2 linked regions of the Homo sapiens genome follow. The protein of the gene in region 1 purifies or fractionates together with the protein of each later gene. This does not show direct contact. Each region holds a gene or a part of one and is shown in the gene's direction. Other genes may lie near its edges.

Region 1 (7,807 bases):
TTTAAGCACGTTTCTATTTTCTTTTTTTTTTTTTGAGGTGGAGTCTCGCTCTGTTGCCCAGGCTGGAGTGCAATGTGCGATCTCAGCTCACCGCAACCTTCATCCCCCGAGTTCAAGCAATTCTCCTGCCTCAGCCTCCCAAGTAGCTGGGATTACAGGCACACGCCACAGCTAATTTTTTTGTATTTTAGTAGAGATGGGGTTTCACCATGTTCATTAGGCTGGTCTTGAACTCCTGACCTCATGATCTGCCCACCTCGGCCTCCCAAAGTGCTGGGATTACAGGCGTGAGCCACCGCGTCTGGCCCATGTTTCTATTTTCAATCAGAGCATTTAGAATATAGGAACATCTGTGCATTTAGGGATGCTGCAGGTTCTCAAGTAATGTCATTTCATTAATATTGATGAAAAATAGAAATGATTCCCAGCTGGGGCCACTGTCTTTGTGGAGTTTGCACTTTCCCTTTAACGTCTACATGGGTTTTCTCTGGTACTTCAGTTTCTTCCCAATTCCAAAGCTGCACCTGTCAGGTTACTTGGAACGTCTCAGTGGTTCCAGTCTGAATGAGTGCGGGTGTGTGAGTGCATCCTATAATGGAATGGTGTCCTCTTCAGGGCTGGTTCTTGTCTTGTTCCCTGGGTTGTGGGATGGGCTCCAGCTGCCCATGATCCTAAACTTGAATAAGCAGGTTGGAAAATGATAGAATGAATGAATATAAAATATTGTAAAAGAAAAATTCATAAAGTTTATGATAACCATACAAATGCAGTCAGCAAACCAGCCACATTCGTGATTATTTTTTAACTGTGTGGTGGTAGGAGGTGCTCCTTACAGTTTTCCCTTTGCAAACATTTATTCCTTGGTTTAACCCACCACTCTTAAAATTGCCATCACTCACTGATTCACCAAAAATTGGGTAAATATCTTACCTTGTTTTTATTAATCTTTCTTAAGTGTATGTATAGCTCACATGTATTTTGATGTTGAATATTAGAAGTGACTGGGTTTTTTGGCCAGGTGCCGTGGCTCACACCTGTAATCCCAGTGCTTTGGGAGGCCGAGGCAGGCAGATCACTTGAGATCAGGAGTGTGAGACCAGCCTGGCCACATGGTGAAACCCCCTCTCTACTAAAAATGCAAAAAAAAAATTAGCCAGGTGTGGTGGCGGGTGTCTGTAATCCCAGCTACTCCAGAATCTCTTGAGCCTGGGACAGAGAAGTTGCAGTTAGTCGAGATCTCGCCACTGCACTCCAGCCTGGGCAACAGAGCGAGACTCCCTCTTAAAGAAAAGAATCTTTGGATCTTTATTTAGAAGTTTGGTGATCTTTTTTTGTGACCAAAAATGCTGCAGGAACCTAATTCTTGTTTATATCAGTTAGCCTGTGGCAAAATTAGTTTTGCTATATGTTGTTTCACTTAAAGTGAAACTTTAAAATAGGTTCTGTTTCTAAGAACCTATCGATGACAGTGACAACTTTGAGGACTTAACTGTTTTTAATTTTAGAAAATGTATGTTGCACCTACATCCAAGTCCTTTGTTATACAGCATAGTGCATTCAGTAGACATTTTATAACTACTTAAATTGTATCTTTGCCTCTTGAGAACATCTGCTTCAGTACATCTTCCTAAATATTTTTAGAGTGGCCAGAATAGCAGTGTGCGAGTTGGTGATGTATTCTTTTTAGGAAGTTGAGTCTTGTTCAGTGTGAACATGTGTTTGTTTGCCTGCTCTGCCTATGTTTCTAACTGGGCTTCCTTTGTTTCATGCTTACGTTTCTACTTTTTTCTTCCTAGCTACTACCCACAGATGGCATGATCCGAAAACACTCTCATGTCAAGATAGGGCGTTACCATCAGGTACAGGCCTGGGGTTGGGATCCGGGGAATTGCCCAGGGTATAGGGAGGGGCTGTATCTGGCTGAGTTCCAGCCAGCCGCCCCCACCCCCTGGCAGGAATTCCAGCCTAGGTGGCTCCTACCTGCTTCTTGAACCCAGAACAGGTGCCTGGGATAGAAATAGGAAGTTACCTAGTAGGGTTTATTTTGAAGCGGGATGCCAGTCACACCCGGGTGGCTTCCATTTTTCCTGTAGCATTTACAAGAGCAGCTGGACTTAGATCTCTCACCTTTGGAGTACATGATGAAGTGCTACCCAGAGATCAAGGAGAAGGAAGAAATGAGGAAGATCATTGGGCGATACGGTCTCACTGGGAAACAACAGGTCAGTAAAGGAGGGTGTGGTGAGGATGCCAGATAGCTGGCAGACTGTGGCTGGGTGGGTCAGGGGATACTGTCCTGGCAGCCTGGGTTTGGAAGCTGTCCAAACCAGAGTCTCCTCCATTTGACTCCCCTAAGAACCTACTACCTTTTCTTTACTCTAGGTTGTTATGTAATGGAGCATTTTGAGGGGGCAAGGATAGCGTGCCAGTCTCTGACATGCCCTTGTGCCATAGTGCTTGAGGGCAAAGGAACTTGTAATCTAGAAAACAAATTTCTGGATTCAGATCTGGAAGGATCCAATTCATTGCCAAGAGAGCGAGAGGTGTGGGCTTAGTAATGGCAAGGGCTTCAGGTTTCCGGATGAGTCTCTTTCAGGCCTCAAGAGACTAGTGGGTCTCTCTGAGCCTCACTTTTTATAAATGGCGATGCTAATGGAGGAGTCAGGGAGAAATGAGGGAGAGATGAGCTGTGCTGTTTGGCGGGGATAATGCCAAGTTATATGTAGGTCACGGTTCTACTCAGGTGAGCCCAATCCGGAACTTGTCAGACGGGCAGAAGTGCCGAGTGTGTCTGGCCTGGCTGGCCTGGCAGAACCCCCACATGCTCTTCCTGGATGAACCCACCAATCACCTGGATATCGAGACCATCGACGCCCTGGCAGATGCCATCAATGAGTTTGAGGGTGGTATGATGCTGGTCAGCCATGACTTCAGACTCATTCAGCAGGTGAGGCCCTGGCCAGGGGGTGAGGCACAGCAGAGCTTCTAGGGGGTTGGGTAGGGTAGTCATGGCATGTGGAGGGTGCATAATACCCGCCTACTGAATTAAGAGAAGGGGCTCAGAGTGTAGACACAGGTGGTGAGGACCAGTTCTTATGCCTCTTTGGGGCTACTTAGAAAGCCTTAACTGAAACACTTCATTTCTTCAGTAGCTATCTGGAGATGTCAACCAACTTAGCATTTTGGGCCCAAATGGGAAAGAGAGTTGGGTAGAAAACGGTGCTTTTACTACTGTCCCAAGATTCTTCAGTCCAAAAATAGTATTCTAAGGAGGATTTTGATTAGACAGCTACCACAGTCATTTGAGAAAAAGTTGTTGCTCATTCCTCTGAAGCTCTGGGGAAGATGAGAGGTGGAGAAAAGAAGGCTGAGAGTGAAGCCTCTGAATAGATCTAGGCCCTGCCAGGGAGCTGACAATAGGAGTGACACAGCAGTTCCTGGCTTGGAAGGCTCCAAACCTGATGATGGTACCCTTGGGTTAGAACATCCCAAATAACTTAGAAGTAGTGAGACAGTGAGTTGGATATGGGTTTGGGGGGCGGAGTTTTCTTCCTAGACGCCCCTCAGGACAGTCTGCTGGGCAGAGGCAGGGACAGTGACTAGCCCAGGATTAAGTCCAGGTTTTGCTTTCTAGGTTGCACAGGAAATTTGGGTCTGTGAGAAGCAGACAATCACCAAGTGGCCTGGAGACATCCTGGCTTACAAGGAGCACCTCAAGTCCAAGCTGGTGGATGAGGAGCCCCAGCTCACCAAGAGGACCCACAACGTGTGAGCCCTCTACCTGGGTTCGGGTCAGGAGCTCCATCTGGGAACTAACAGCTGCTAACCTGACCAGCCGCTCAGGACAGGACCCTGGGGCTACACTCCTGCATTGCTGCAATACTGCTCCCCCAGCCTCTCCCCTGCCCCTCAACCTGCCTTAGCTGCACTCTCTTACCTACAGCTGGACAGTACCTGTCTGTTTCCTGTCCTCCTTCCAGTTACATCTGTCCATGTCTGGACTCGGCTGGCCGTTCCCTCCAGCCCCTTGCTGGTTATCTTACTCTGAGTGTGATGCAGTCAGAGGCACCTGCGGGTTAGCCCAGGGGCCCAAGCCCTGGATTTGGCCTGCGGAGGAGCTTAGGATCCTCGTTTTCTGGGTTTTGGTGATGTTGGAGGAGTACCCCCCAGCCCACCGCCCCGATTCCTTTTTGCTTCTGGTTTGGAGCTCCGGACCAGGACCTTCGTCCTGGTCAGTTTTTAAATAATTATTTAGCAGTGTAACTTTTAGACCTGCGTGACATCTACAAAGCGCCCAATAAAGAAAGAGGAAGCCACGGTCCCTACCTTCCTTCTCGGGTCTCTGGGGCCTTCTCCTCCCTGCAGTGCCAACATGCACTGCCCACAGCAGGAGCTGGATCCAGCGTCAGTGTGTCGATGGGAACTGAAGACTAGTCCATAGGAGCTGGAAGAACTTTGTCCCTTTACTTCTGATTTGAAATTGTACCTTTTCTCAGGCCTGTGATTCACAGACTTTAACATGAATCAGAATCACCTGGAGGGCTCATGCAATCAGATTGCCAGATCTCGCCTCAGCGTTTCTGGTTCAATAGGTTTTGGGGGAGACCAAGAACGTTAACATTTCTAGCAAGTTTCCAGGTGATGCTGTTGTTGCTGGTCTAGAGACTATTTTGAGAACCACTGTCCAGGAGCGTGGTTTTCTGATTGTGATCTGAGGTTCTGCCCCAACTGCACAGCAGTTGGGCTGCTTGTTAAAAATGCAGGCCAGGTGCGGTGGCTCACACCTGTAATCCCAGCGCTTTGGGAGGCTGAGGCAGGTGGATCACTTGAGCTCAGGAGTTCAAGACCAGCTTGGGAAACATGGCAAAACCCGTCTTTATGTGCCTGGAATCCCACCTGCTCAGGTGGCTAGGGTGGATGGATCGCTTGAGCCCAGGAGGTGGAGGTTGCAGTGAGCTGAGATTGCACCACTGCATTCCAGCCTGGATGACAGAGCAAAACCCTGTCTCAAAAAAATGCAGACTGGCCAGGCACAGTGGCTCACACCTGTAATCCGACTGTAAGCTCATCACCTTGGGAGGCCACTGTAGGAGGATCAATTGAGCCTAGAAGTTCAAGACCAGCCTGGGCAAAGTAGGGAGACCCCTTCTCTACAAATAGTAATAAAATGAACCGGGCATAGTAGCATGTGCCTGCGGTCCCAGCTGCTCTGATAAGAGGAGGCTCACTTGAGCCCAGGAGGTTGAGGCTGCAGTGAGCAGAGCGTGCCGCTACACTCCAGCCTGATGACAGACCGAGACACTGTCTCAAAAAAATAAAAAAATTCAGATTGCTGAGCATCAGACCTATTGATTAATCGCATTTGGTAGAATGAGAGAGGTGCAGAGATGGCCAGGAGTTTGCATTTTCACACCAACGTCTGTGAACCTCTCTTCCTATTGGGATACAGGAAATTTTGTATTTTTACCTGTCCACAGCCATAGTTATCATCACTGTTGAATTCACTTCCAGCCCAGGGCTCTGCATACCTTATCTGGGTCTTTTGAACTTCAATAGCATTTCACCAGTGGCCATCCTTCCTGGTGTGGATTCATCACTCTGCCTCTGAAATCAGCCATCCCTATGGGAAGACACAGCCATGATTTTTCAGTACTCATAATACAGCCAGGACTGGCGGGAGCAACTGTCCCAGATGGTGCTTAAACCCCTTAGGAGCTCATGATCTTCTTGGAAAGCCAGTAAGACAGAACCATACAGGACACAAATTAGATGCTAAATTGTGATTTAGATAGGAGACAGAAGTATTCAAAAAGGAGGGAAATTTCTTGTGAGTAGCTGCCCAGAAAGGTGGAATTGGTGTGCTCTCACTTGAAAAATGAGTAGGATCTTCTCAGATGGCCACAAAGTCCAGGAGCTGCCCTGGGCAACAGGGACAGGAGCCTCCCGTGAGACACTGCAGCTGAGACAGATGGGAGTCCTCTGACCCCAGAGGGTACTGGCTTGACTGCTTTATGCCTTAAGTGGGGCCTGGAGCAAAATGGCCCAGGTTAGTCTGTCCTGAGAGTCCAGAGCCTTGGTTCAGGGGAGAATGGCATCTGGAGAGTGGGCTGCTGGGATAATGGGGACAGTGAGGGACAGAGCCCTTGATACTTAAGGAAGTGCTGGATATTGCTAAGAATTCAGGTAGTCTCGGGATCTCCAGAGTCTCCATACTAGGACAGGAGATCTTCAGAACCTGGAGGAATGGAAATAGTCTAGTCAGCTTATTTGTCAAGAAAAATGTCAACCTTGGTAATTTAAATAATGCTTTAAAAGTCCACAAAATACATATTTCTAAAATTAGCAGTGCCTTGTTTTGGATTGAGAAGTGGCCTGTTAATTCTCTTAAACCTTAGCCCGTAGGATGTGGCCAGCCGTTCAGAGCTGGGTGGAGAGGTAAGTTGATTGAGGGGTTGCTAGCTTTAACACAGCCAGCAGGTGATGCTGGTCTTTGGAACCCTTCTCCCACCTCTCAATTTGTAACATCCTCTTTTCCCCCAAGCCCCTATACCTTTCATATTGCTCCAGGTTTCTTTAATCACAGCATTCAAGGGCCTGAAGTATTTGTTCCCCCATAGGTGCTAAGTGAGACAATTGACTTTCTCCATTTTGCAATGGGCTTTTCTTCCCTTTACTGCTAACTCCCAAGACCGCCACGTCTGCTTTTCTGGTGAGCACCTATTGCTTTTCTGCTTCTCACCTCCTCCAGTGGTCTTCCTCCCTGTCAGCCTCTTCACCACCTGGGGAGCTTCTGCTATCTGCATCTAGTCCAGGCTCAGGCGTTTTGCTCATCTGCCTTCAGTCCAAGCCTCATTATACTCCGCTCACACTGATTCCACTCTACCTTTCACACCGTTTCTTTCTCTCATTCTTCCCAATTAAAGGATACATCCTACAAGGATACATCCTACAATGGGTATATGAAGGATACCCTTCATATACCCATTTGTACCAAGAAGCGGCCTCTAGCTACTCGAGCCCTCCTCACCATGGGTACCACCACTTTTAGCCCCTTCACCCTTCTCTGGTGGTTTGATGTGAACCAGTCTTGTCTCTTCACCTCCACTGGGGCGCAGTGGGGGAGGGAGCTTGCATTCCTTCTGGAGTCTGCAGCACTCTGAGCTGTGCTGGCACCTGTGTGCTCCGTGATTACAGGCTGGTGGGCTGGAGTTGCCTGAACTTTTAAGAAGTGCGTAAATACACTGGGAGATGGTTGGGTGGGGGAGGGGACCCGGTGAAGGGTTTCTTAATTCAGAGGGATTACTTGTGGGAGAGGAAGGAACAATTAGTCTCTTTTCAAGGTTAGCCCAGAGCATGTTCAGGATTGGGATTGAGTCACGCCCCTTACCTCCCACCTGCCCCCCCCCCCCCTCCCAGGTGCATGTCCCCAGCCACACCTGGTGGGGCAGCTGACTTGATAAAAAGTAGCTCCAAGGGGGTGGGTGAGGGCTATTCGAGAAGCAGGAGGATGAGCGCTGAGTATGGACAGCGGCAGCAGCCCGGGGGCCGTGGGGGTCGCAGTTCTGGGAACAAAAAGTCCAAAAAGCGCTGTCGGCGCAAGGAGTCCTACTCCATGTATATCTACAAGGTGCTGAAGCAGGTGAGTGCATAGCAAGGATGTGTGTGAGGGATGCCCTCACAAAGCGCCTTGAAAGGGCACTGGCTGGAAGTGGGGACCTTGAGGTTAGTGTTGGCACTGGGGCAAGTGGCTCAGGCAGGCCTGGCCCCTCTTGAGGTGGCGGGACCTGGTTTTTGAGGTCTCCACCTC
Region 2 (8,254 bases), on another chromosome or scaffold:
GAGCAACTGATGGTTGAATTGAGTCTTAGAGGATAAGTGGGAATCTATCAGGTAAAAAAAATACAAGGAGTCCAAACAGAATGCTATGTCAAAGGTATGGCAAAGACAAGCTGTATGAAATTGCTAGTTTCACAATTAACAACACTTGACACAGTCGCCATAATGGAAATATGCGTAAGGTAAGTGGCTGCTGAAGTGAAGAAACATCTAAGTCAGAGTGAGGGGCTCATAATAAGGCACCTACCTTCATTCTTATCCTCTTATTTTCATGATTGATCTCCCTTGGTGGTCACCTTTCACTTCGTGGTTCAAGGTCCTCTATTCTTTTCTCACTGCTGTCTCTTCAAGTATGGATGGACCAGAGATCATTCAATTATATTAATCCTCATAATATTCAATACATTCTTTAGGCACTTGGCTCATGAAAGTAGATGTATTGTTGTGAAAATATTGTTTCAACTTGTATTTTATTTTAGCTGTTGTTTATTTTTCTTCTGTGAAAGCCCTTGGTTAAAAAAAATAGAGTATCAGAGTTGGAGTACAGGGAAGAGAGCTGAAGCAGTGTTAGGTCTGTCAAACATAATAATAAAAGGCCAGTTAGGTAGTGGTGACTTTGAAAATAAACCTCATCTAGCCACTGATCATCGGGAGTAAGGAGAGAAAAGAAATAGTCTGTGGTCTCTGTGTGCTGGCCTTCTCCCCTTATTTTGTAGAGAGCAAGCACTGGCTCTACGAAAAAGCCCTATTTCCCTGGCATTGCTGGGGAGCAGAAGATGGGTTGCTCTGACACTGTATTCTCCTGTGACCAATAGCCTGTGTTGTCACAGCTTTACCAATAATAGGTCCCCTTGCTGGAGAGCCACTTCACAGCTTTCCCTGTTGAATTCAGGTCAGGTCTCCACTTCTTACTTTAACCCAATCTTTTACGGTTCTCCAGTCTGCTTGCAAACTCCTAGAATCAATTACATATTTATAAGTACTGTGCATATTTTATATTTTCTACATTTGATGTGATTTTTGTTGGTATTCTGTTTCGTATTTTCAACTCTGATAATAACATTTCTCATAAAGAAGACTATCCTTACAACATGTCTTCATTTAGAAAAAGTATTGCTGTAGATGAAATTCAGTGAGTTTCAATTTGATGATTTTGTATTAAAATGCATTTCTTTAGGCATCAATATTGCAGTAACAATTATTGATGTGTTACAATAACAAATGTTGACATTATTGACATATTGACATTGATACTTTAATTAAGCAGTACGTTTAAGTAAATAGTTTTAAACATCTGAGTGTGAATTCCAGCATTGTGATATTTCTCTTTAGCCTAGAACAAGTTACTCAAACTCTCCAAGCCTGTTCTTTCATCCCTTAAATGAAGATAATAATAGCCTTGCGAGTTGTTAAGATTAGTATTTATAACATGCCTGGTTATAAATGTTATGAGAGTGTGCTCATAAATTCTGGTAGTGTCATTGTTCTTGGTAATTATTACAAGTTAGCATTAGTAAACTTCATGTGTGTATTCTATGGCCTAAAAATAGTCTGCTTATAAAATTGGTGCTTTATATCAGCAGTCCCCAACCTTTTTGGCACCAGGGACCAGTTTTGTGGAAGACAGTTTTTCCATGGGCCTGTGGGGGCTTGGTGGATGGTTTCAGGATGAAACTGTTCCACCTCAGATCATCAGGTATTAGTTAGATTCTCATAAGGCAGACAGCCTAGATCCCTTGCATGTGCATTTCACAATAGTGTTCACCCTCCTGTGAGAATCTAATTCCACTGCTGATCTGACAGGAGGTGGAGCTCAGGCAGTAATGCTCCCTTGCCTGCTGCTCATCTCTTGCTGTGCGGCCCAGTTCCTAAAAGGCCACTGACTGGTACCAGTCTGCGGCTCAGTGACTGGGGACCCCTGCTTTATATCGTGTTTTAAACTATTTACTAACAATTAAGAGGTGGTATATCACGTGGTGATTAAGAACATAGACTCTGGGTCCAAATTTCAGCTCCATGACTTATGGCCAGGCTGACCATCGACAAGTTACCTAAATGCCTTGTGCATCACTTTCCTCAGCTTTGAAATGAACATAACAGTAGCACATTTATCTCAGGGATATTATGAGGAGTCAATCAGATTAAGTATATAAAAAGTATAAAACAGTTGCTGACACTTAATGCTGGCTGTCAGCTTCTGCCATTGTTATTGTTGCTATTATTAATTTGTTGTTGAGTAAATTTTTTTTTAAATCACTTTTTAGGTGAATCTTGGAAGCAACCAGTACCTTTTCTCTGTCATAGTGGATCCTAAAGAAATGCCCTGCTTCTGTTTGCGCCATGATGTTGATGCCCTACTCTGGCAACCACACTCCAGCAAACAAGATGATATGTGGGAGCACATCGCAACTTTCAATGCTTTAGGTATAAAGCAAACTCTTTGACATTTTCCATGAAATCAGAAATACAGTCATCATTCATTTAAAGTTCATTTCTTTTTTTTCTTTTTAATTTGAGCTGTCCTGATTACATTTAGATTGATTTGCGCTATGATTTGTTTGCTTGTACTAGTTGTGAGTGTTAGCACTGTTGGAACATTTAGACTAATCTGTTTTTATGCTTGTACAGAAGATCAACACAGAATAGAAATGAAAGTGGTTATCTAACCACTTGAATTATTCTAATAAGTCATTTGCTTTTTCTAATTCTGTAAGCCATATAATACTGGAGTCTGAGCAAGGAGCTTGATAATACCCTACATGGAACTGGTGTTCAAGTTTCTTCAGAGTAATCTTCAGAAACATCATAGAATTCCCCTAAGGTGTAATGCACATTAGGAGACATCTTTTGTCAAAATTAAGTACAAAAGAGAGCCATTATAATGAAAATACTTATGGAAAGCGGTGATAAGCAGAAATTAAATTTATTTGGTAGGATAAAAGGAAAAAAATCAGTTTTAAAATTAGGGCTTGACAATGTTTAAACTACTTAATTATAGACGTATGCAATCATTGATTTTCTGTCAAAATGCATTAGTATTGTGTGACAGAAATTTTTTATGTGAATTAGCCACAGTTGTTGCTTTATTGAAAGGTTATTTTAAACAGGCAGCAAGAAGTGAAGTTACGTATTTTGATGGCTATATGTGCACAACCCTAATTGTAGAAGAAATTTATTAATTATCCCTTATAGTTAATAATGTAGGCTGCTAAACTGGTTCAGACTCCAAATGGATTTTTATGACCTGAAGTACAAAGTTTGGTTAACTAATTTAACCATATAATTTTTAGCCTCCCTACTATAATGCTATTTTTTAATTATCTATACTTTGGTCAGAAGAAAGCTCTATCATATCATCTTTAGATGCTCAGATGTTCTATTTGTATCCCCAAATCCCCTATTATAGGGGAATTCTATGCTTAATTCTAAGTTAAATCAACATATATTAGATATGTACTCTTGAAATATTATATACATTATTCTGTCAAGGTTAGCCTGGATAGCTACTTTAAACTATTTAAATAGGTATCTAAATCTTCACTTTTCCTGCTTCAAACCTGCTTAATATTTTTAAAAACAGTATTGATCTGCATGTGCTCAGTAGTTCCTTTGCTTATTCATTGTTTGATGAGATCTCAATTTTAATTAATGTTATATTCTTATTTTACATGATCATAAATACCTAACATTTGCTAACCATGTCACTATCTAAAAATCATAATTTATATTTTGGAATATAAATGTTGTTTTAATCCAAAAAGATACTTTTTAAACATGTACATGAATTAAGATAAGGATTTTTTTCAGTTTAGAGACTTGAAATTATTTTTGAAGTTATAGTGATCAACATTCTACTTGTGGGGGCTAAAAGTACAAAAAAATCCAGTTACAGTGTTGGTATTGATGTATAAAAATATCACTAACATTTTAGGGATAATAAGAGAATGCATCACGAATACTAGTACATTCAGGGATACATTATGAACAGAAAACTAAAATAACTTTATGATGGTATCCTATACACATTTTCCAATTTATTTAAGAGGAAAAAAATGGTTCTGTGATGCCCTATCCGTAACTCACGAAGCTAAATATTAAATTGGCACTTAAAGATATTTTGTCATGTATTGAGTGTTTTAGATTTTAGAATTTTAGTGTTCGAATTATTCGTGGAAATTAAATGAAGCTATATTACGCTTTTTTTGAAGCGAGAAAGCCATATCTGTTTTGTTCCTTAGGAATTAAAGTCGTATTTTTGTACCAGATGGGAGAGACTGATTGTGGCTAATCGTTAATGATTCAGAATTATATACCTTATGGTATATATTTTACTTGGGCATTTTAATTTGTAATAAACATTGCAAAATATTAAATGTTAAATCATCATTTTTCCCCTTCTGTTTAATATATAGTTTTTCTTTTGTTTGTCTCATATTCTTGGCAGGCTATGTCCAAGCATCAAAGAGAGACAAAAAATTTTTTGCCTGTGCTCCAAATTACTCGTATGCAGCCCTTTGTGAGTGCCTTCGTCGAGTATTCATCTATCGTCAGCCTGCTCCCATGTCCACTGTACTTTACAACAGAAAGGAAGGCAGGCAAGTAGGACAGGTTGCTAAGCAGCAAGTAGCAAGCCTAGAAACCAATGATCCTATTTTAGGATTTCAGGCAACAAATGAGAGATTATTTGTTCTTACTACCAAAAACCTCTTTTTAATAAAAGTAAATACAGAGAATTAATTATTCTAACATATTGGCCTCTTTGTACTGGAAAAGTATTCAGTGGTACCTGGAGGTCTGGACAGTTATACTGTAACCTCTTAAGTTTTAATGTGCTAAATATATCTTGTATGATTTTTTATTTTTTAATAACATTGGAAATATATTCAAGAGATTATGATTCTGTAAAGCTGTGGAATGAAGCTGCAGATTTAGAGAACATTGGCTTCTGAAAAAAAAAAAGAGTGAAGATAGTACTAGCAAGTATACTTATTTTTTAAAACAGGCTAGAATCTCATGTTTTATATGAAAGATGTACAATTCAGTGTTTAAAAATAAAAATATTTATTGTGTACTCTGTTCGTTGATTAGTTGCTACAGGCTGTACCTATAAGATGTACAGGATAATAGTTAAATGTTGAGTATTGTACATATGTATTTAAGTGGATTGAATAACTGAGTCTACATGGAGGAGGAAATGCTAGAGAACAGCAGGTCTAATATTTTTTAAGTTTACTGAGAGACCTTTATTATTATTTTCAAATTAAGTATAGCTTTATGTAACTTTTAGCCAGTTGCTCTGCCACAGACATAGACAAAGAGAGATAAGATTTCACATTATCCATCACTGCATAACAAACCACACCAAAACTCAGTGGTTTAAAACAAGGACTTTTATTATTTTTCACGATTCAGTGAGTTGGCTGTCTCTGCTGTACAGGGCCTCTCAGCCTCCAGTAGACTAGACGAATCTTCTTTCCATAGTAGAGAAAACATCTTAAGAGAGCAAGCTCCAATATGCAAGAGCTTATCGATCCTGTACATCTATCATATTTACTAATGTTCCATTGGACAAAGCAAATCACATGGCCAAGTCTAGAGTCAGAATGAGGGGACTACACAAGCTGACAGCGGATGGTATGACTCATTGGGGGCCATTGATGGAACAATCTTACCACACAAGGACAAATTATAATTTATCCTTGTGGCTCTCTTTATTTTTCTAACAACTTCAACAAAATAATCCTGTTTATATGTTATAGTTTCTTGCCACAAATTTTGTTTTTTCAAACTTACCTTTCCAGGTTTGTTTTAGTATGTATGTACCTGGAAATTTTTATTACTTTTTATACCATTTCAAGATATGTATCTTATATAAACCTCAAGTTGGATTTTATATTTTAATAAGGAAGTTAAGACCTTCATTTAAGAGGCAGAAGATTAAGATAAGAAATATAAGATAGAAAAGCTTTGTTCCTAACATATCTTTTGCCTGTCTGGGCAAGTATTTGACTCAACTAAATTTTAATGAACGAATGAATGACAGAGAGGAGGAAAAAAGATGAGGATTGCATACATGTTCTAAACCCTTTGTCAGATTGCAGTTTCCTAGAGAGTATTGAGGTGCTAGGTAGAAAGTTAGGAAAGGTCCTGAGGACTGGTATTGACAATTGGAGTCCTAATAGTACTCTATTCGTATTAGGAAAGAGAGACTAGATACCAAACATCACGAGATCATAGAGATGGAAAACTGTATAGTAACCAAAAACCAAAACAGTGATATTTCCAGAACTTTTTAGTATTGTTGTAAAACTTCATGAAACAAAAGACCATTTAAATAGTGAATTATTAAAAATCTTTATGATGGGAAAGTAGATCTAAATTTTCTCTAAAATTTTCCCCAAAGATAATATCCTCTTAGGGAACATAAGAAAAATGTATAATAAAAATGTGGTGCTTAATTAACCATGACTATGTATATATTGCCAATTTTAGTAATCAATATTCTTTGTGCATGTGATTTTTTTGCATGATTAATGTTGAATTGAAAGCTCTCAGGATAATTAATCCTAAATATTGTCGCATGTTGACCTACGTTAAAAGATGAATAGGTCTAGAGCCGTGATTTCAAGCTATTTTCCTGAAATGCTTCAGGGATTCCATAAACATTTAAACAATGTTCTAAGGTACATATACTTAGAACATTGAGATATATACTACAAGTGCTAAGAATATAGTACCTTGTATTTTTGTTGATTTTTATCATGTTTTAAATAGGAATTTATAAAATATTTATGATAGTAATAAAGTAGTATTTTATGTGTTTTGCATATTAAGAGTCATTAACAATATTCACTCTTTTAACACATTTAAGCATCAACTATGTACCTTAGCATGATTTTTTCAGTATTAAGGATAATATATTACTAAGGATAAAGAGACAATCTACATTTTAATGATTTTCAGATAAAATTTCTTTTTAGGGAAAAAAAGAGGAGAGGGTGGCATAGAGTGGTTGCTTTCCTGCTAAGGAAGTCTGACCAGGGCTAGAACCTTGGGGACTACCCACAAGAGTCAGGTAGAGGAGTTGCCAATGGGAAGAGTTAGAAAAAAGAATCAGAGTGTCAAGAAATTAGGAATGGTTAACAATGTTAAAAAAAATACTCTTAAATAAAGTATACTCATCAAATTTCTACATAAAAGGGAAATGACTGTACAGAACAAGTTAAACCATCATTACACAGGAATTTCTAATATTTTGTGTTATTAACTATAGAAAAGAACAGATGGTAAGTTTATGTGTGGCAAGTCATATAAGAAGGCAAAACTGATACTTATCACTGATTATTACTGGAAGAATATTCTAATTACTTCTTAGTAGTAAGTGTGTCTTACTGAACAAGTAATAATAGTTGAGTGGTAAAAAACAAAAGCCCAATGATGGAAGTATAGAAGTAATAAAGCAAAGAGAAGTAAGGCCTTCTAGAATTGGTAAGAAAGAATAAATGCACAAAAAGAGCCAAGGTAAAAGGTACCCAACTAGATATCAAGATACATCATGAAGCAGTAAAAAGAGTAGCATCATTGCATTAGTAAACAAAATAGACACACATTTAATCGTCCTATACTTACAAGAAGAAAATATCTATATTCTCAAGGTTGAGAAGGCTTCTTAAGATCCAGAAGGCAAAAATATAAGCGAAAGGATTGATGAATTTGATCATTACAAAATGTAAAATTTCTTTATGACCTACTTTTGGTATAAGATAAAGCAACAGACTGAGGAAAGATATGTGACTTATGCGTAATGTATGAATGTTAAAATCTAGAACATAAGAACTATCATTTAATAAAAAAGCAAACAAGTTATACAAAAGGAAAGCAGACAAAAGATATGAACAGTTAATTCACAGAAAAGAAAATAAAGATGGTCAGTAAAGCTACAGTAATCAAGAAAATGTGGTATTGGCACCAATTTCAACAAATAGATCCATAGATCAGAATAAAGAGTCCAGATGGAGACTCAGACACATATGGTCAGTTGATTTTAGTCAGAGATATTTCAATGAAGAGGCAATTCAAAATGCAGAGATAATTTGATGGAGAAAAGATATATTTTTAACAAGTGGCGCAAAAACAATTGGGTATTCATTTTTGCCTTTGTAGTAGCCTAAATAGTGGCCACCTGAAGATATCAGGTTCCAATCCCTGGAACATGAAAATATAACCTTATGAAGATAAAGAGTCTTTGCAGAAGTGA

The links.
Region 2: the proteins of ABCF2 (region 1) and NUDCD1 purify together in Homo sapiens (affinity purification with mass spectrometry, with the first as the bait; 2 studies listed by BioGRID). This does not show direct contact.

The regions. Positions count from the first base shown.
Region 1 is NC_000007.14:151,210,019-151,217,825, reverse strand, and holds the end of ABCF2 (ATP-binding cassette sub-family F member 2), read left to right. Parts: intron 1-1,796; coding exon 1,797-1,859; intron 1,860-2,093; coding exon 2,094-2,222; intron 2,223-2,743; coding exon 2,744-2,947; intron 2,948-3,634; coding exon 3,635-3,772; 3' UTR 3,773-6,342; downstream 6,343-7,807. Other genes in the region: ABCF2-H2BK1 (ABCF2-H2B protein), read left to right, coding at 1,797-1,859, 2,094-2,222, 2,744-2,947, 3,635-3,768; H2BK1 (histone H2B type 2-K1), read left to right, coding at 7,508-7,639.
Region 2 is NC_000008.11:109,239,489-109,247,742, reverse strand, and holds the end of NUDCD1 (nudC domain-containing protein 1), read left to right. Parts: intron 1-2,261; coding exon 2,262-2,421; intron 2,422-4,441; coding exon 4,442-4,734; 3' UTR 4,735-6,824; downstream 6,825-8,254.